Linked DNA regions of Homo sapiens: region 2 is linked to region 1. The links come from fine-mapping of genetic effects on gene expression. A gene starts in region 1. The other region holds a variant in brackets. All regions are shown on one strand. Distances are from middle to middle. Region 1 holds the start of KTI12 (KTI12 chromatin associated homolog). Region 2 holds the start of TXNDC12 (thioredoxin domain containing 12).

Region 1 (8,332 bases):
AAAAAGGCATACCTATTGACTCTAATATGATTTGAGAAAAAGCAAAGTCATTATATGGCAACTTAAAGCAAAAAGAAGGTGAAGGATCTAAAGCTGGAGTATTTAATGACAACAAATGATGGTTTGCTGATTTTAGAAAGAGGTTTGGCTTAAAAAATGTCAAGACAGGCTGGGCGCAGTGTTGCCCGTAATCCCAGCACTTTGGCAGTCCAAGGCGGGTGGATCATTTGAGGTCAAGAGTTTATGACCAGCCTGGCCAACATGGTGAAACCCCGTCTCTACAAAAAATACAAAAACTAGCTAGGTGGTAGTGGTCCATGCCTATAATCCCAGCTACTTGGGAGGCTGAGGCAGGAGAATCGCTTGAGCCTGGGAGGCGGAGGTTGCATGAGCCGAGATCCCCCCACTGCACTCCAGCCTGGGTGACAGAGTGAGACCCTGTCTCAAAAAAAAAAAAAACAAGATACAGGAGAAGCAGCTTATGCTGACCAAGAGGCAGCAGATGAATTCTCAGACACCGTTAAGAAAATCATTGAAGAGAAAGGATATCTGCCTGAACAGGTGTTTAATGCAGATTAAGGTACCCTACTCTGGAAAAAAAAAGCCACAAAGGACATTAATAGTAAGGAAGACCAACCTGGGCAACATGGGAAACTCTGTCTCTACAAAAAGTACAAAAATTAGCTGGGTGTGGTGGCACACACCTGTTGTTCCTGCTACTCAGGAGTCTGAGGTGGGAGGATTGCTTGAGCCTGGAAGATTGAGGCTGCAGTTAGCCATGAGTGCACCACTGAACTGTAGCCTGGGCAACAGAATAAGACCCTATTTCAGTTTTTAAAAAGGAAAAAAAAAAATAGGAAGAGAAGCAAGTACCAACATTGAAGGCAAGAAGAGACAGGCTAACTCTACTCTTTTGTGCAAAAAAACCCAGCACTTTGGGAGGCAGAGGTGGGACGATTACCAGAGCCCAGGAGTTTGAGTCAAGTTTGTCATCAGAACTGCCCTTGTCTATAAAGCTGTTAACCTCCAGCCTCGAAGAGCAAAGATAAACACCAGCTGCCAGTGTTTAGGTTGTGCAATAAGAAGGCTTAGACAACAAGAACCCTTTTTCTGGATTGGTTCCATCAATGCTTTGTCCCTGAAGTCAGGAAGTACCTTGCCAGTAAGAGACTACCTTTTAAAGTTCTTTTGATGTTGGACAATACTCTGGCCACCCAGAGCCCCATGAGTTCAGCACCAAAGGCAAATTAAAAAGTCTATTTGCGGCTGGGCCCAGTGGCTCATGCCTGTAATCCCAGCACTTGGGAGGCCGAGGTCGGGGGATCACCTGAAGTTGGGAGTTCCAGACCAGCCTGACCAACACGGAGAAACCCAGTCTCTACTAAAAATACAAAATTCGCCGGGCGTGGTGGCACATGCCTGTAATCCCAGCTAATCAGGAGGCTGAGGCAGGAGAATTGCTTGAACCTGGGAGGTGGAGGTTGCAGTGAGCTGAGATCGTGCCATTGCATTCCAGCCTAGGCAACAAGAGTGAAATTCTGTCTCAAAAAAAAAAAAAAAAAAAAAAGGTGGTCTATTTGCCTCCAAACACAATATTTAAATCAGCTACTACATCAGGGGGTGATAAGGACCTTTAAGGTTCATTACACACAGTACTCTCTAGAAAACAGATTGTCAAAGCTATGGAAGAGAACTGCAATAAAGAGAACATCATGAAAGTTTAGGAGGATTATATCGTTGAAGATGCCATTGTCGTTATAGAAATAGCTGTGAAGACCATCAAGCCTGAAACAATAAATTCCTGCTGGATAAAACTGTGTCCAGATGTACACAAGACTTCACAGGGTTTATGACAGATAATCAAAATCATGAAAGAGATTGTGGATATGGCAAAAAAAGGTGAGGGGTAAAGGGTTTTAAGATATGATCTTGGATAAATTCAAGAGCTAATAGACACCAAACCAGAGGAATGAACAGAAGATAACTTGATGGAGATGAGTGCCAGATGATGAGGAAAAACACGTAGAAGAGGCAGTGCCAGAAAACAGATCTGGCAGAAGGTTCTAATTATTTAGAGCTGCTTTTGACTTATTTTACAACATGGACCCTTCTAAGATATGTGCCCTGAAACTAAAGCAAAGAAAAAAGATTGGTATTGTATAGAAACATTTTTAGAGAAATGAAAAAGCAACAAAATCAGACAGAAATTATATTTCCATAAAGTTACACCAAGTGTGCCTGCCTGTTCTACCTCCCCTTCCACCCTCTTCTGCCTCTGCCATCCTGAGACAGCAAGACCAACCTCTCCTCTTCCTCTTCCTCCTCCTCCTCAGCCTACTCAGTGTGAAGACAAGGATGAAGACCTTTATGAGTATCCATTTCCACTTAATGAATACTAAATATATTTTTGCTTCTTTATGATTTTCTTTTTCTTCTTTTTTGCCCCCCTGCTTCCTGGAAAGATTTTCTTAATAACATTTTCTTTTCTCTAGTTTACTTTATTGTAAGAATACAATATATAATATTACATTCAAAATATGTGTTAACTGAATATATTATTAGTAAGGCTTCCAGTCAACAGTAGGCTATTAATAGTTAAGTTTTAGGGAGTCAAAAGGTATATGCTGATTTTTGATGGTGTCAGGGGTCAGTGCCCCTCATCCTGGGGTTGTTCAAGGGTCAGCTGTACTAAGTGCTACTGTGCATTAGGCATTAAATTATGCAAATCAACTCATTTAACTCTCACAACAACTTTTTGAGATTGGTATTATTGTTATCTTAATTTTAGAGATGAAAAAAGTAAGGCACCGTTTTTTCTAAGTTTACTAAAATAACTTGCCCAAGAGCACACAGCTAGCAAGTGGCAGACCCAAGCACTCTGGCTTCAGAGCCTGCTCTTTAAACCTGTATACCATACTGCCTGCTAGAATCAAGTTGAATAGTCTGTAAAGTCTCAAGTAGGTTTAGTTTATGCACAGACAATTCAGTGCATAAGGAGGAGGAAAAGGCAGGGCAGGGGAGGGAAAGCTAAGCACTGGTCTGTGTTTACTTTTTTTTTGTTTGAGACAGAGTTTCGCTCTTATTGCCCAGGCTGGAGTGCAGTGGTGCGATCTAGGCTCACTGCAACCTCCGCATCCCGGGTTCAAGCAATTCTCCTGCCTCAGCCTCCTCAGTAATGGGATTACAGGCACACGCTACCCCACCCGACTAATTTTTTAAAAAGTATTTTTAGTAGAGACAGGGTTTCACCATGTTGGCCAGACTGGTCTCGAGCTCCTGACCTCAGGTGATCTACCCTCTGCCTCCCAAAGTGCTGGGATTACAGGCGCGAGCCACCATGCCGGGCCTGTGTTTACATTTATTTAACCCTCACAACAACCTACAGATTGGTAAACCTGTGAAATAGCAGTTGTTATTTTATAGAAGGGGAAATTGAAGTACAGAAAAGTTACATAATTTGCCAGTAGTTACAACACTAGTAAGTGGAGGAGCCAAGACTTGAATGTTTTTTACTATACTGTACAAGAGAGATACAAAGACCCCAGTATATGTGCATCTACAATATACACACATGCACAGGCACACTCACATTTCTGCACCTACCATCCTATAGTGCTTGCTGTTTATACAAGAGATCCAACAGTTTCATGGCTCTGGGTCTCAAACCTACAATAATAGAGTTGCCAGATTGAGCAAATAAAAATAACGGATGGCCAGGCACAGTGGCTCATGCCTTTAACCCCAGCACTTTGGGAAGCCAAGGCCAGTGGATCACCTGGGGTCAGGAGTTTGAGACCAGCCTGGCCAACATAGTGAAACCCCGTCTCTACTAAAAATACAAAAATTAGCCAGATATGGTGGCGCACACCCATAGTCCCAGCTACTTGGGAGGCTGAGACAGGAGAATCGCTTGAACTCAGGAGGTGGAGGTTGCAGGGAGCTGAGATCATACCACTGTGGTCCAGGCTGGGTGACAGAGCGAGGCTCCATCTCAAAAAATAATAATAATAAAATAAAATAAAGGATGCAGGCCAGGCACCTTGGCTCACACACCTGTATTCCCAGTACTTTGGGAGGCAGAGGTGGCACAATTACTTGAGCCCAGGAGTTTGAGACCAGCCTTAGCAACATACAACCTCATCTCTAAAAAAGAAAAAATAAATAATAATAATAAATTAAAGATGCCCAGTTAAATTTGAAGTTTAGATAAGCACCAAATAATTTTAAATATGTCTATGCAATATTTGGGACACACTTAAGCTTAAAAATGTTTTTGGTGTTTATCTGAAATTCAAATGTAACTGGGCATCCTGTATTTTATCTGGCAACCCTACTAAGGAGAAAAATTCCTATTTGTCTTTCAAGTTCTAAGTCAAATGACTATTTCTACATAAAGTCTTCAGTGATTTCTCTGGGTAGTTTGTTTTTCCCTTCTGTTCTTTTATAACCTCACCTGCATCTATCCATTATAGTATTTATTACTCTGATTGTAGGCGCCTGATCCTTCCCATTCAGACCTTTTATCTTTTGTGGGGAAAGCGTTTTATGTTCATCTCTGAATTCCCAACCTTGGAGATGTTGAATGATTGAAATGGTAATTGAATAAACATTTACTGAGAGCCAGTAGGTTTAAGAGGAGGAATGAAGGAGAACCAGCATTTATTAATTGCCTTCTATATGCTAAATATAGTGCTGATTGCTTACAATATTTAATGCCCCTTAGGCCTTATTAATAAAATGGACGGGCAGTCTTTCGCTGCAGGAAGATCACATTCTCCTGAGGCCTATAACATTTGGCATAAATAACTGATGCCATTATAGTCTCTGTATCTCCTTTCTGAGAAAGCTGAACCTGGGCCTAGCTGGCGTAGAACTCCTGTTTCCATAGAAACAAGAGGGTCTGTAAAAGTCAAGGGAGACAGGAAGAGCAGTTTGCACTTCCGGCTTACGTCGGAGACGCGTACAACCCGGAAGTTGGCGCAGCGCGGTTGCCAATGGTCGCTCCCTGAGAGGATGCCGCTCGTGGTGTTTTGCGGGCTGCCGTACAGCGGCAAGAGCCGGCGTGCTGAAGAGTTGCGCGTGGCGCTGGCTGCCGAGGGCCGCGCGGTGTACGTGGTGGACGACGCAGCTGTCCTGGGCGCAGAGGACCCAGCGGTGTACGGCGATTCTGCCCGTGAGAAGGCATTGCGTGGAGCTCTGCGAGCCTCCGTGGAACGGCGCCTGAGTCGCCACGACGTGGTCATCCTGGACTCGCTTAACTACATCAAAGGTTTCCGTTACGAGCTCTACTGCCTGGCACGGGCGGCGCGCACCCCGCTCTGCCTGGTCTACTGCGTACGGCCCGGCGGCCCGATCGCGGGACCTCAGGTGGCGGGCGCGAACGAGAACCCTGGCCGGAACGTCAGTGTGAGTTGGCGGCCACGCGCTGAGGAGGACGGGAGAGCCCAGGCGGCGGGCAGCAGCGTCCTCAGGGAACTGCATACTGCGGACTCTGTAGTAAATGGAAGTGCCCAGGCCGACGTACCCAAGGAACTGGAGCGAGAAGAATCCGGGGCTGCGGAGTCTCCAGCTCTTGTGACTCCGGATTCAGAGAAATCTGCAAAGCATGGGTCCGGTGCCTTTTACTCTCCCGAACTCCTGGAGGCCCTAACGCTGCGCTTTGAGGCTCCCGATTCTCGGAATCGCTGGGACCGGCCTTTATTCACTTTGGTGGGCCTAGAGGAGCCGTTGCCCCTGGCGGGGATCCGCTCTGCCCTGTTTGAGAACCGGGCCCCACCACCCCATCAGTCTACGCAGTCCCAGCCCCTCGCCTCCGGCAGCTTTCTGCACCAGTTGGACCAGGTCACGAGTCAAGTACTGGCCGGATTGATGGAAGCGCAGAAGAGCGCTGTCCCCGGGGACTTGCTCACGCTTCCTGGTACCACAGAGCACTTGCGGTTTACCCGGCCCTTGACCATGGCAGAACTGAGTCGCCTTCGTCGCCAGTTTATTTCGTACACTAAAATGCATCCCAACAATGAGAACTTGCCGCAACTGGCCAACATGTTTCTTCAGTATTTGAGCCAGAGCCTGCACTGACCAGAGGAGGTAGGGGGGAAGCCATGGCTTCTGATCTCCACTCCACTTTATTTCTCTGGGAAAAATAGGCTGCAGGTCTCCAGAGCATATCGATGCAGTACTGTACTAGAGCTGTTGTGACTGATTCACTCAAACTTTCCTGCATACCCCTGTGCCAGGCCTTGGGTTTACAGCATAAGTTCAGACTAAAGAGAATGGAGAACTATTGTGGTGCAACCTGGCAAATCCCTCAGAGGACAGAGCTAAGGTGGACAGGGATTACCTAGATTGGATCCTACTTGGGCTATCACAGAGCATTGACCATTGGCTTCCCTCATCTGAGGCGTGGGAGAGCAGACTGGATAGATGAGAATTGTTTTAAAACAATTGTGAACAGAAACTGAAGATGGTACAGTTCTACATCTGCACCTGCCCTTTTTTCATACCACAAAAGTATTTTTTGAGTACTGTACTGACTTTTTGCTAGTTTCTATTCTGGGACCGAGTTCACAGATAAATCCATTGGTTTGTATCCTTGAGAAACTTTGTTTTTGTGGAAGTAAGAAAGTTATCTACTAGATTATTTCCTCTAATAAAATCTTTTAAAATAGTCTACTGGAATCTCTTTCACTTAATGTTCCCTGTGTAACTTCATGTAACATTTTAGGTATACTTGTCATTGTTCTGCCTTTAAGTGAAGTAGTATTTTGATAGTTCTGAGAGAGTAGATGTTTTGAGCTACTCTACAGTAATTATATTATGACAATTTCCGTAACTGTTTTGCTTCATTCTGCATTTCAAGGCAAATATCATTGTAAGCTTGTCTTTCATTCTTCATTGATTTCATTGAACAAATGGTAGGTACCTACTTTAACAGTGGCTGTGATTTTCAAAGACCAATTAGATACAGTGTTTTTGCTCTTGAGATATGTGGTGAGAAGCCGGGTGTGGTGGCTCATACTTGTAATCCCAGCACTTTGGGAGTCCAAAATCGAGGTCAGGAGTTCGAGACCAGCCTGGCCAACGTGGCAAAACCTCGTCTCTATTAACAGTACAAAAATTAGTTGGGCGTGATGGTGTGCCTGTAATCCCAGCTACTCTGGAGGCTGAGGCACGAGAATCGCTTGAACCTGGGAGGTGGAGGTTGCAGTGAGCTGAGATCGCACCACTGCACTCCAGCCTGGGCAGCAGTGAAACTGGGTCTTGAAAAACAAACAAAAAGAGATATGTGGTGAGAAATACAAGTAAAAGATAGAATTAGGCTGGGTGCGGTGGCTCATGCCTGTAACCCCAGCACTTCAGGAGCCCAAGGCGGGTGGATCACAAGGTCAGGTGTTCAAGACCAGCCTGACCAACATGGTGAAACCCCATCTCTACTAAAAATACAAAAATTAGCCGGGCGTGGTGGCACGTGCCTGTAATCCCAGCTACTCAGGAGGCTGAGGCAGGAGAATCGCTTGAACCCGGGAGGCGGAGGTTGCAGTGAGCCGAGATCGCGCCACTGCACTCCAGCCTAGGTGACAGAAGGAGACTCCATCTCAAAAAAAAAAAAAAAAAGATAGGATGAAATGGGCTGGTGGTCAGAGGATGATGACAAAAGACAAAATGCTTTGGAAACCTGGTGAAGAGGACTAACTAGCTGTTGGGGGAGGTGGTTTTGGAAAGGTTTTAAGAGGAGTTAACATTTGAACCATCACTGTAGAATAAAGTCAGTAAAGGGCCAAATGGTAAATGTTTTAGGCTTTGTGGACCATCAAATGCTGTTGCTACTTATAGATGGTAAGTAAACAAATAAGCATGAATGTATTTTAATAAAACTACACTGAAATGTGAATTACAATTAATTTTAACATATCACAAAGGAGTCTTTAGATTTGCTTTGCAAACATTGAAAAATGTAAAAATATACAACAAAATATTTGCATATCATGGGCCCTACGGAAGCAGACGGTGGGCTGGATTTGGCCTGCAGACCCTAGTTTGCCAACCCCTGCTCTAGAAGGATAAACAGATGTTTGCCAGGGAGAAAAGAGAAAGCAAGACATTCGAAAACATGCATGCTCTGAAACTATGGAGCTGTTAAAAGAGAGGGTAGATGGGCTGCCTTGGTTGATGGTATATTCCTTGCTCATCAGGTAATCTATACTACCTTTTGTTTCTGATAAACAGGATTCATGTGTGAAATGGAAGTCTGGATGAGGCAAACTCAAAAGGCTTTTTCCAACCTTCATTAAGTTGGTTATTGATTGAATTGGGTCTAACCATGGATTCTGGA
Region 2 (8,294 bases), 20 kb before region 1:
CAAATTAAAAGTCTTGTTTTACTTGTTCTGCAGATCAACAAATCATTACTGAGATGTGAGGGAGGGAATAAGGGACTAGGTTGTTATCAAATCTTCTTTGGCCAATTCTCTAAACCCTGTATAGTCATCATTCACATGAAAAAAATACTGTTTGCTTCATTTGAGAGATTAAAAAAAGCAGCATCAAAGACTATATAATTACTAACCATTTTGTACTTTGACACTATCCTTAGGCAATAACCTATATATCTATCTCTTCTTTAAGGCTAATGTCCAGATCCCAAATAATATTTAGAATTTATGATTCTTCACTCTGCTCAGCGCTGTATCACAATGCTGAAGCAGCTAAAAACACTTTTATAGGAGGAAGTGTGTTTAGAGTCCAAAACAAGAAGTCTTAAATGTGTGCCAATCTTAGCTCTGCCATAGACTTAAATTTGATGACTTAAATCCCAATTCCTATGCTCAAATATCCACAGAAAAGGACCAACATTCACTTTTCTCAAAGGAATGTGGCCATGAGAGTGTAGTGAACTAACAAAGAGCCAAAGGAATTTATTGCAAAAAAAAAGGGGCTAAGGAAAAACATTAGACCTAGATACTTGGTAAACCCTTTGGGATTCTTCTGCATTTTGAAGTAACAATTCCCAAGAGAACAGACAGAGGTTGGGATGCCAAGACAAAGTCTTGACTTGTTTGAAATAAAAGCAAGAACAAAATTAACTCTTCAAATCAAGGTATAGATGAAAGAACAGATTCCATTCCAGGTGGTCAGGACAACAGAATTGAGAAATTTTGTTCCTAAGGAGTATCTCAGAGAAAAATGATTTTAGGGAGACTGAGAGCTCAAGGCAGTAGGGGAGGAACAAGAGTAGTCTTTTGTTTCTTGGCAAGTTGTGGTGTGTGGAATTCAAGTAGGAAAGAGGACTGGACTCAGTCTATGCGATGTCAAGCTCAGAATCTGGAGTAGACCTCCAAGATCACCTGGTTTAATTCTCTATTCTCAATCAACCTCTACTTTATTGCACCCATCATTCCTATCTGTGATGTCATCTCAACATCTGCTAGCACCAGCAAAGTATAAATTACAAACGAAACAGTTCCCTCCCTCCCATCTTAATAGATTAGGAAATAAGGGCCCAGAAGGGAGAAGTCCCTTCCTAGGCCCAAAAGGGAGAAGTAACTTCCTAAAGCCACATGATTAATGAGTTCTTCCTTGGGGATTCCAGGATCTTTTAGCACTGTTCTCAAGGACTCAAGAAAGGGTGTAAACAGGTTTATATTTATTAAGTGCCTAAGTTAGAAGCATTGTGGTAGGCACTTTCACATACATCATGTTTACACAGAGATAAAAATAATTGCAACCTTGAGTCCTGACTTTTTATTATGTAGGGTTTCTCTAAGACAAGCACAGGCTTTGGAATCAGAAAGACCAAGGTTCTACCAGTTGGGAAAGGTATTTTTCTTCTCTGAACTTGTATTCCTCCTGCATTTGGAAAGGTATAACACCACGTACTTCACAGGGTTGTTTTGAGGGTTAAAACATTATCAACCACAGGGAATGGTTCACAGAAGATACACAGTTACTGGTAACTATTGTTACCACTCCCGAGGGGACAACTATGGTAAACTGCAAGAATGTGGGAACGGAAGTTGAAACCGCCATTCACTAGCTGTGCAACACTGAGCCTGTCGGTCAGCAGGCAGTGGGAGGGGGGTTATAAAGATGGGCAAGGGACGCCGACTTGTAAACAAACACTGCCATTACAAGGTGAAGAGTGCTGTAACTGAGTTCGGTTCCCTGGACTCAAGGGCGGGAAGTGGTAACCTCAGCTTCCCTATCTGTAGACTGGGAGCATCAAATGAGATGACAACAGAGAGCCTGTATAAAGCTCAAAGCACACAACACTGCTGTTGTGAGCAAGGAGTAATGGAACAGAGGAGGGGCGTCCACCTGCCTCCTGGGACAGGGTCTGGGCGGCAACAGGGCGGGCCCGCTCGCTCCCACAGGGGGCGGTGGTGCTGGGGACCTTCCCACAGGTGCCGACCCCCAGCTGCGCCGCCGGTAACCGACAGGCCAAGCCAGCCGCCTCCGCCCCCGCTCGCCGCACCACGGCGGAAGTGGCAGCCTGAGCGGTTGGCGGGTGTCGGAAGGGGAGGGCGGGGGGAGACCGTGCGCAGCGGCCTATGGCCGTGAAGTGGCGGGACCGCCGGGGGTCTCACCTGAAGCAGGGAGGGTCCTCCAACACCAGCACGCGGCAAGAGAAAGATGGCTGCCTCAGCCGAGACAGAGAAAGACGACGGCGGCGGCGGCGGCGGCGGGAGCAGATCCACGTGATACAGCCGACCCCGCCTCTCCCTCTCCGGGGCAGCCTATCCCGGGAGCGAACATCTGAACTCCAACGCCCCGCCTGCTTTGCGCATCCCTCTTAGTGCTAGTGGCGGCAGGTGCAGGTGGCCGCGCGGCATCCTGGGGCTTGCAGTCTCCCGAGCGTTCTGTTGTGTCCCTGCCTACAATTTTAGGGAACCTAATAAAAGGGTGGTCGGTATGTTTTTATTTGGGTGTGTACTTTTGTTAGGTCGCTTTTTCGCTATGCATTAAGTACGGACTTTAGGACTCAACTAGTACCAGGAAGAAAAAGACCGGACATTTTCACCTGTTTGTTATACAGCGAAGGGGAAAAATTGGGAAGAAATCCTCAAGCTACAAGAAAAATAACCAGAAGCTTTACACTTTAGCCTGCAGTGACTTATATCCTGGTGTCCTAAGTCCACCTAAGTCAGTTTTGCAATAAGAGGTCCCAAGTTTGGTTTTCTTGGAGCTTGCATCAGTTGGTTGCATCATCCCTGAGTAGAAGATTTGCGGTTGCAAGGAAAAATAAGGTACAGAGCTTCTCCAGCGGGAAAGTGCATGTCTGCACGGCACGAGCCCACGCACCGCAGAACAGGCTTGCCAGGTCTCCTCAGAGACCCTCGCAGGAACCTAACAATGAAATCCAGTTGTCCAGTCTTGATTTGTGGAGGGGTAAGGAGAATCCGAGGCCAGTGGGCAATCCGCCCACTGTTGGGAGCGACTGACCTCACGAATCAATAATTTGCTTTTGACTAGGAAGTGCAGCGGTTCTTGGGGGGAGGGGCTGGACTGGGTGGCGGACGCGAGGAGCAACGGTTCTCCCGAACCTCTCCCCCGCCCCTACTATCTTGGCCTACATTTTCCCGCTCCGTCCCGGGACCTGGACACCCAGAATCCACGAAAAGCAACTCGCGCTCGAGAACAGCTCTCGTACCCTTCTACGTGATCTGCACCTTTAAGCTCACTCCATCCCAAACCGGACCCCGGAGGCACCACCCACATCCGTCTAACATCACTTCCTTCAGAGTTTGAAAAAAAAAAATCTGGGAAGTAGAGGTGT[TGTG/G]CTGAGCGGCGCTCGGCGAACTGTGTGGACCGTCTGCTGGGACTCCGGCCCTGCGTCCGCTCAGCCCCGTGGCCCCGCGCACCTACTGCCATGGAGACGCGGCCTCGTCTCGGGGCCACCTGTTTGCTGGGCTTCAGTTTCCTGCTCCTCGTCATCTCTTCTGATGGACATAATGGGCTTGGAAAGGGTCAGACCGCGTTCTTATCTTCTCTTTACTGATCTTTACTATACTGATCCCAGTATAATCTCTTCTTGCCCTAGCACCGTTCCCCTCCCATTCTAACTCTTAGGCCACTCCAGATTTCTTTTTATCTTCCCCAACCGCTCCTGGAGTTTGAAGATTTCTTGGGGTAGAGAGTAGCGGGTCTGGGGAATGGAGAAGTTGTACTTGAGGCCTCTCTAAATTATTGGATTGGGGGGAAGGAATGGCCCGTAAATTAAGGAAAGCATGTTAAGAGCCCAGCATAGTGCCTAGCACTTGGGAGGTCCTGAGGAACGGTCACCTTCCCACCTGGGAGAAATAGAGCCGTTGGGGACCTGCATATGCAGAGGACCCTGTTCTGGGTCTGAAGATTTCTCTCGTTACTTCTTCCGCGAAGAGCTAGGTTACTGCCACTTGCTTGCCTTTGGGAAACAGCACCTGCATCCCAGGTAGCTGTATCTAGTGCATAAGAAGAGCCAAGCGAATGGTAGAAGGTCTGCTGTTTAAGGGTCCCCAACAATTGTCCTTGCTGTGGTTCAGCGAAGTTTTTTTGTAAGTGAGCGATCAGTGGTTATGAATGGAGGTTAGGAGGTGTGGCCCCCTACTCCATCCATTACCTACATCTCCATTCTAAGTTTTAACACCTCTCTCCTCATCAGCCCTTACTTAGTTGAAAGTTGGACTGACAGTCTGTGAACTCAGAGTTTATGCTTTTCTAAGTAGATGAATTGTAGCATGGATCCCAACCCCTCTTCCTTTTTTTTTTTTCACTGACCTTACTGTATGGAATGATTCTGCTGCAATCCTTCTGTTTTTGTTTTCTCTTATCCTCTCTATTTTCACATCTATTGGTGAGTAATAAGATTGGGTGGGCATTCATTTTGCCTGAATGCAATCATTCCTTCATTCCGTAAATAATTTTTGATCACCTCCTATATTTCAGGCACTGTCCTAGGCACTAGGGATATAGCTGTAAACAGGACAGACAAGGTTCCTACTCTGGTGGAGCTTATATTCATGTCAGAGAGACAGAGTAGACTCATGAACAAATTAATAAGACAGTTTCAACTAGGAACAAGTGCTGGGAAAACAATAAGACTGTGATGGAATAGGAAGTAGAAAGGCTGGGGAGGTTGGTGGAGCTGGCATCACTTGAATTATGAAGGTCAGGAGAAGCTTTTTGGAGAAGGTGATATGTGGGTTTCCATCTCAGTGATGAAACTGCATGACAAATCCTGTTAGGCCAGAATGTTTTAAATACTGACAATCCCATTTTAAAACAGACTACCGTTTTTTTTTGTTGTTGTTTTGTTTTGTTTTTTAGACAGAGTCTCACACTGTTGCTCGGGCTGGAGTCCAGTGGCATGATCTTGGCTCACTGCAACCTCCGCCTCCTGGGTTCAAGCGATTCTCCTGCCTTAGCCTCCCGAGTAGCTGGGATTACAGGTGCCTGCCACCACGTCTGGCTAATTTTTTGTATTTTTAGTAGAGACGGGGTTTCACTATGTTGGCAAGGCTGGTCTCAAACTCCTGACCTCATGATCTGCCCGCCTCGGCCTCCCAAAGTGCTGGGATTACAGGCATGAGCCACTGCGCCCAGCCAGCTACTGTATATTTAAAGTTGTAAGTACTGAGAGTAACAGAAGAGTAGAGTGTTGGGTACGTGGGTTTAGATCTGAGTTTTTTCTTTGCTGTTTTTTCTGTTTGTTTGTTTGCTTTTGTTTTTGAGACGGAGTCTCACTCTGCCAGGCTGGAGTGGAGTGGTGCAATCTCGGCTTACTGCAACTTCTGCCTCCCGGGTTCAAATGATTCTCCTGCCTCAGCCTCCCAAGTAGCTGGGACTACAGGCATGTGCCACTATGCCCAGCTAATTTTTTTTTTTTTTGTATTTTTTTGTATTTTTAGTAGAGATGGAGTTTCACCATGTTGGCCAGGCTGATCTCAAACTCCTGACCTCAGGTAATCCTCCCTCCTTGGCCTCCCAAAGTATTGGGATTATAGGCGGGAGCCACTGCGCCAGGCCTAGATCTGAGTTTTAATTTGTTCTGCCACTCACTAGCTGAGTAGCCTTGGGCAAGTTTCTTAACTCTCAAAGCCTCCGTTCCTCATCTGCAAAATGGGCATCATAACTACCTCAGACACTCAACAAATAATTTGCTCTGTTCAAGTTACTGTGTTAGGTGTAGGTAATACCTTGGAATCAGGTATTTTGTATTTTTATTCCTTGTTAGATATTAAGCTTTGTGTGGTTGTTCCAGTTACCATTGTTGTGTAATAAATCACTCCAAAATTTAGTGGGCATGAAGAAATCATTTTATTATGCTCACAATTGTGTGAGTAAGGAATTCAAACAAGGCACACTGGGAAAGGCTTGTCCCTGTTCTATGATGACTGGGGCCTTGGCTAAGCTGGTTACCTCTCCATGTGATCTTTCCGCATGGGCTCCTATGGGTTTCCTCACAGTAGCTTTATGGGAGGCTGGATTCCAAGAGTGCGTGCCATAAGAGAACAAGGTGGAAATGCATGGCATTTTTGTCACCTAGCCTTACAAGGCACATAGCATCACTTCCACAGTACCCTGTAGGGGCAGATTCAAGGGAATGGAATATTAGGACCCCCACCCTCACCCCCAATGGGAGGTATGTTGAGGTCACATTGTAAGAAGGGCATATCTGCCACAGTGAACCAGGACTATTTCTGTCTTGTTCATGCTCAGGAATATTTGTTGAAAGAGGAAATGAATGATAAACATGATAATTGTGATTCCTGTCCTTTTTCAGCTTGCAGTCTGGTAAGATACCAAGACAAGTAAGCAGACAGTTACATGGCAGCATGATATGTGCTTTAAGCAGAGAAATACCAGGTAGCTGCAGGAGCACATAGAAGGGCAGCTTAGGGCAGTGGGGCTGGGTTGGGAGGATTCAATCAAAAAACAAAAGGCACTTAATATTGTGTCGGACACTTAGAAAATATTTAATAAACATTAACCAGTATTATTTCCCCCATGGAAATAATAATAATAATCCCTAAAAGGAATTAATACTATTTCAAACTTTTGTTTTATGTATCTCTTGGGTATGGATTCTTGGGAAGTAGATTATACCCCACTTACCCTACCTTCCAAAAAAGTGCTACCTGAGGCAATGGTTGCTGAAAGTCTTAATGAGATGGATTTCTTCCCAGATGTTTCCGGACGATGGCCTGGTGGTTTACAGAGAGGAGAGACTGAATGATCTCTACTGTTTTCATTAAGAAGAAGCAGCACAGTGATGTGGACTTAGCACTAAATAGAAATTAGAAGGCCCAGGCTGGGCACGGTGGCTCATGCCTGTTATCCCAGCACTTTGGGAGGCTGAGGCAGGTCAATCACCTGAGGTCAGGAGTTCAAGACCAGCCTGGCCAACATGGCGAAACCCCATCTCTACTAAAAAAAATACAAAAATTAGCCAGGCGTGGTGGCACACGCCTGTAATCCTAGCTACTCGGGAGGCTGAGGCAGGAGAATTGCTTGAACCTGGGAGGCGGAGGTTGCAGTGAGCCAAGATAGTGCCACTGCACTCCAGCCTGGGCAACAGAGTGATACTCTGTCTCAAAAAAAATAAATAAATAAATTAGGAGGCCTGGATTGTAATCCTGATCAGGCCATTTAGTTCTGGTCCTACGTGACAACCAATTAATCAATGAGAAAGTTGTACTAGAAGTACTTCCTAAGATCTCTTCCAGCTCTAACGTTCTATAGAGTTCCAAAATAATTACATTGTTCTCCATGGACTAAAAATTTGGAGTACATCACCCATGGGGAGAAGTAGTGACCAATATTTACTGTACATTTACTATCCTCCAGGTGCTGTTGTGTGCATTTTTCATGTATTGACTAAGCCTCATAATAACCCTATGAGATGGACAATGTTTTTATCATTATTCCCACTTAACAGATGAAAAAACCTCAAATGAGGCAAAGGAGTCCAGTGGACTAGCTGGAATACAAATCCCAGAGCCAGTGCCCTTAACCAGCATACCATTCCAGTCTCTCAGTGCAGAAACTCCTCTAAAGTTTAAAGGAGAAACTAGAAAGCTGTCATTGGGAGTGGTTCTTGTGCTCTTCTGCCTGAAACAAAAATGGATAACTTTGTCAAGTCTCTGGAATAAAAATTTGGCACTAACACATATGAAGTGTGTTTACCTCCCACACAGTGTTCTACTCACATTCACAACAGCCTATGGGATACATGTTTTTGTTAGCCATAGTTTGCATTTATGAAAATGGTAAGTGGCTGAACAAGAATTCTAATGCAGGTCTGTTTGACTGAGACAATCAGTATTTAGCCACTATGTTCTATGTCTCAGGTACAGTGTTCCCTGTTTCAGAGGCTTGGCTGCCAGCTCTGATGCTTGACCTTTTGTTATTTAGGTTTCATCAGCTAGGAGGGGGTGGATAATACTTTTCAGATGTCTTTAGCTTACATTCATTAAAACAATTTTTGGATGAAGGGATTGAAAATTCTGATTGAATGCTGTGTTTAGAAATGGTTGCTTTTCTTTTTTAAAAAATTAATGTTATAGGGTAAGAGTTGCTGATGTGGGAGACTTTACTTTGCAGATAACTGGCATAAATTAAGTGGCTATACAGGTGACACTTTAGGAAATTGGACTGCCTTCAGATGTTCCATGTTGGC

Evidence for each region.
Region 2: its variant is fine-mapped to the expression of KTI12 in whole blood (TOPMed, PIP above 0.99).

Annotation. Positions count from the first base shown.
Region 1 is chr1:52,030,443-52,038,774 of GRCh38, reverse strand. It overlaps KTI12 (KTI12 chromatin associated homolog), which reads left to right and starts at 4,965. Exons shown (of 1, transcript NM_138417.3): 1 at 4,965-6,672. The coding sequence starts at 5,014. The coding sequence ends at 6,078. The region is part of intron 2 of TXNDC12 (thioredoxin domain containing 12); the gene reads left to right. RefSeq lists an enhancer at 4,959-5,258.
Region 2 is chr1:52,050,309-52,058,602 of GRCh38, reverse strand. It overlaps TXNDC12 (thioredoxin domain containing 12), which reads left to right and starts at 3,412. Exons shown (of 7, transcript NM_015913.4): 1 at 3,412-3,603. The coding sequence starts at 3,507. It overlaps BTF3L4 (basic transcription factor 3 like 4), which reads right to left and starts at 2,308. Exons shown (of 6, transcript NM_152265.5): 1 at 2,224-2,308. It overlaps TXNDC12-AS1 (TXNDC12 antisense RNA 1), which reads right to left and starts at 7,685. Exons shown (of 3, transcript NR_126385.1): 1 at 7,638-7,685; 2 at 6,754-6,819; 3 at 5,920-6,196. RefSeq lists enhancers at 1,393-2,104, 2,105-2,818 and silencers at 1,884-2,123, 2,984-3,388. The variant TGTG/G (reference allele first, on the strand shown) is at 3,414.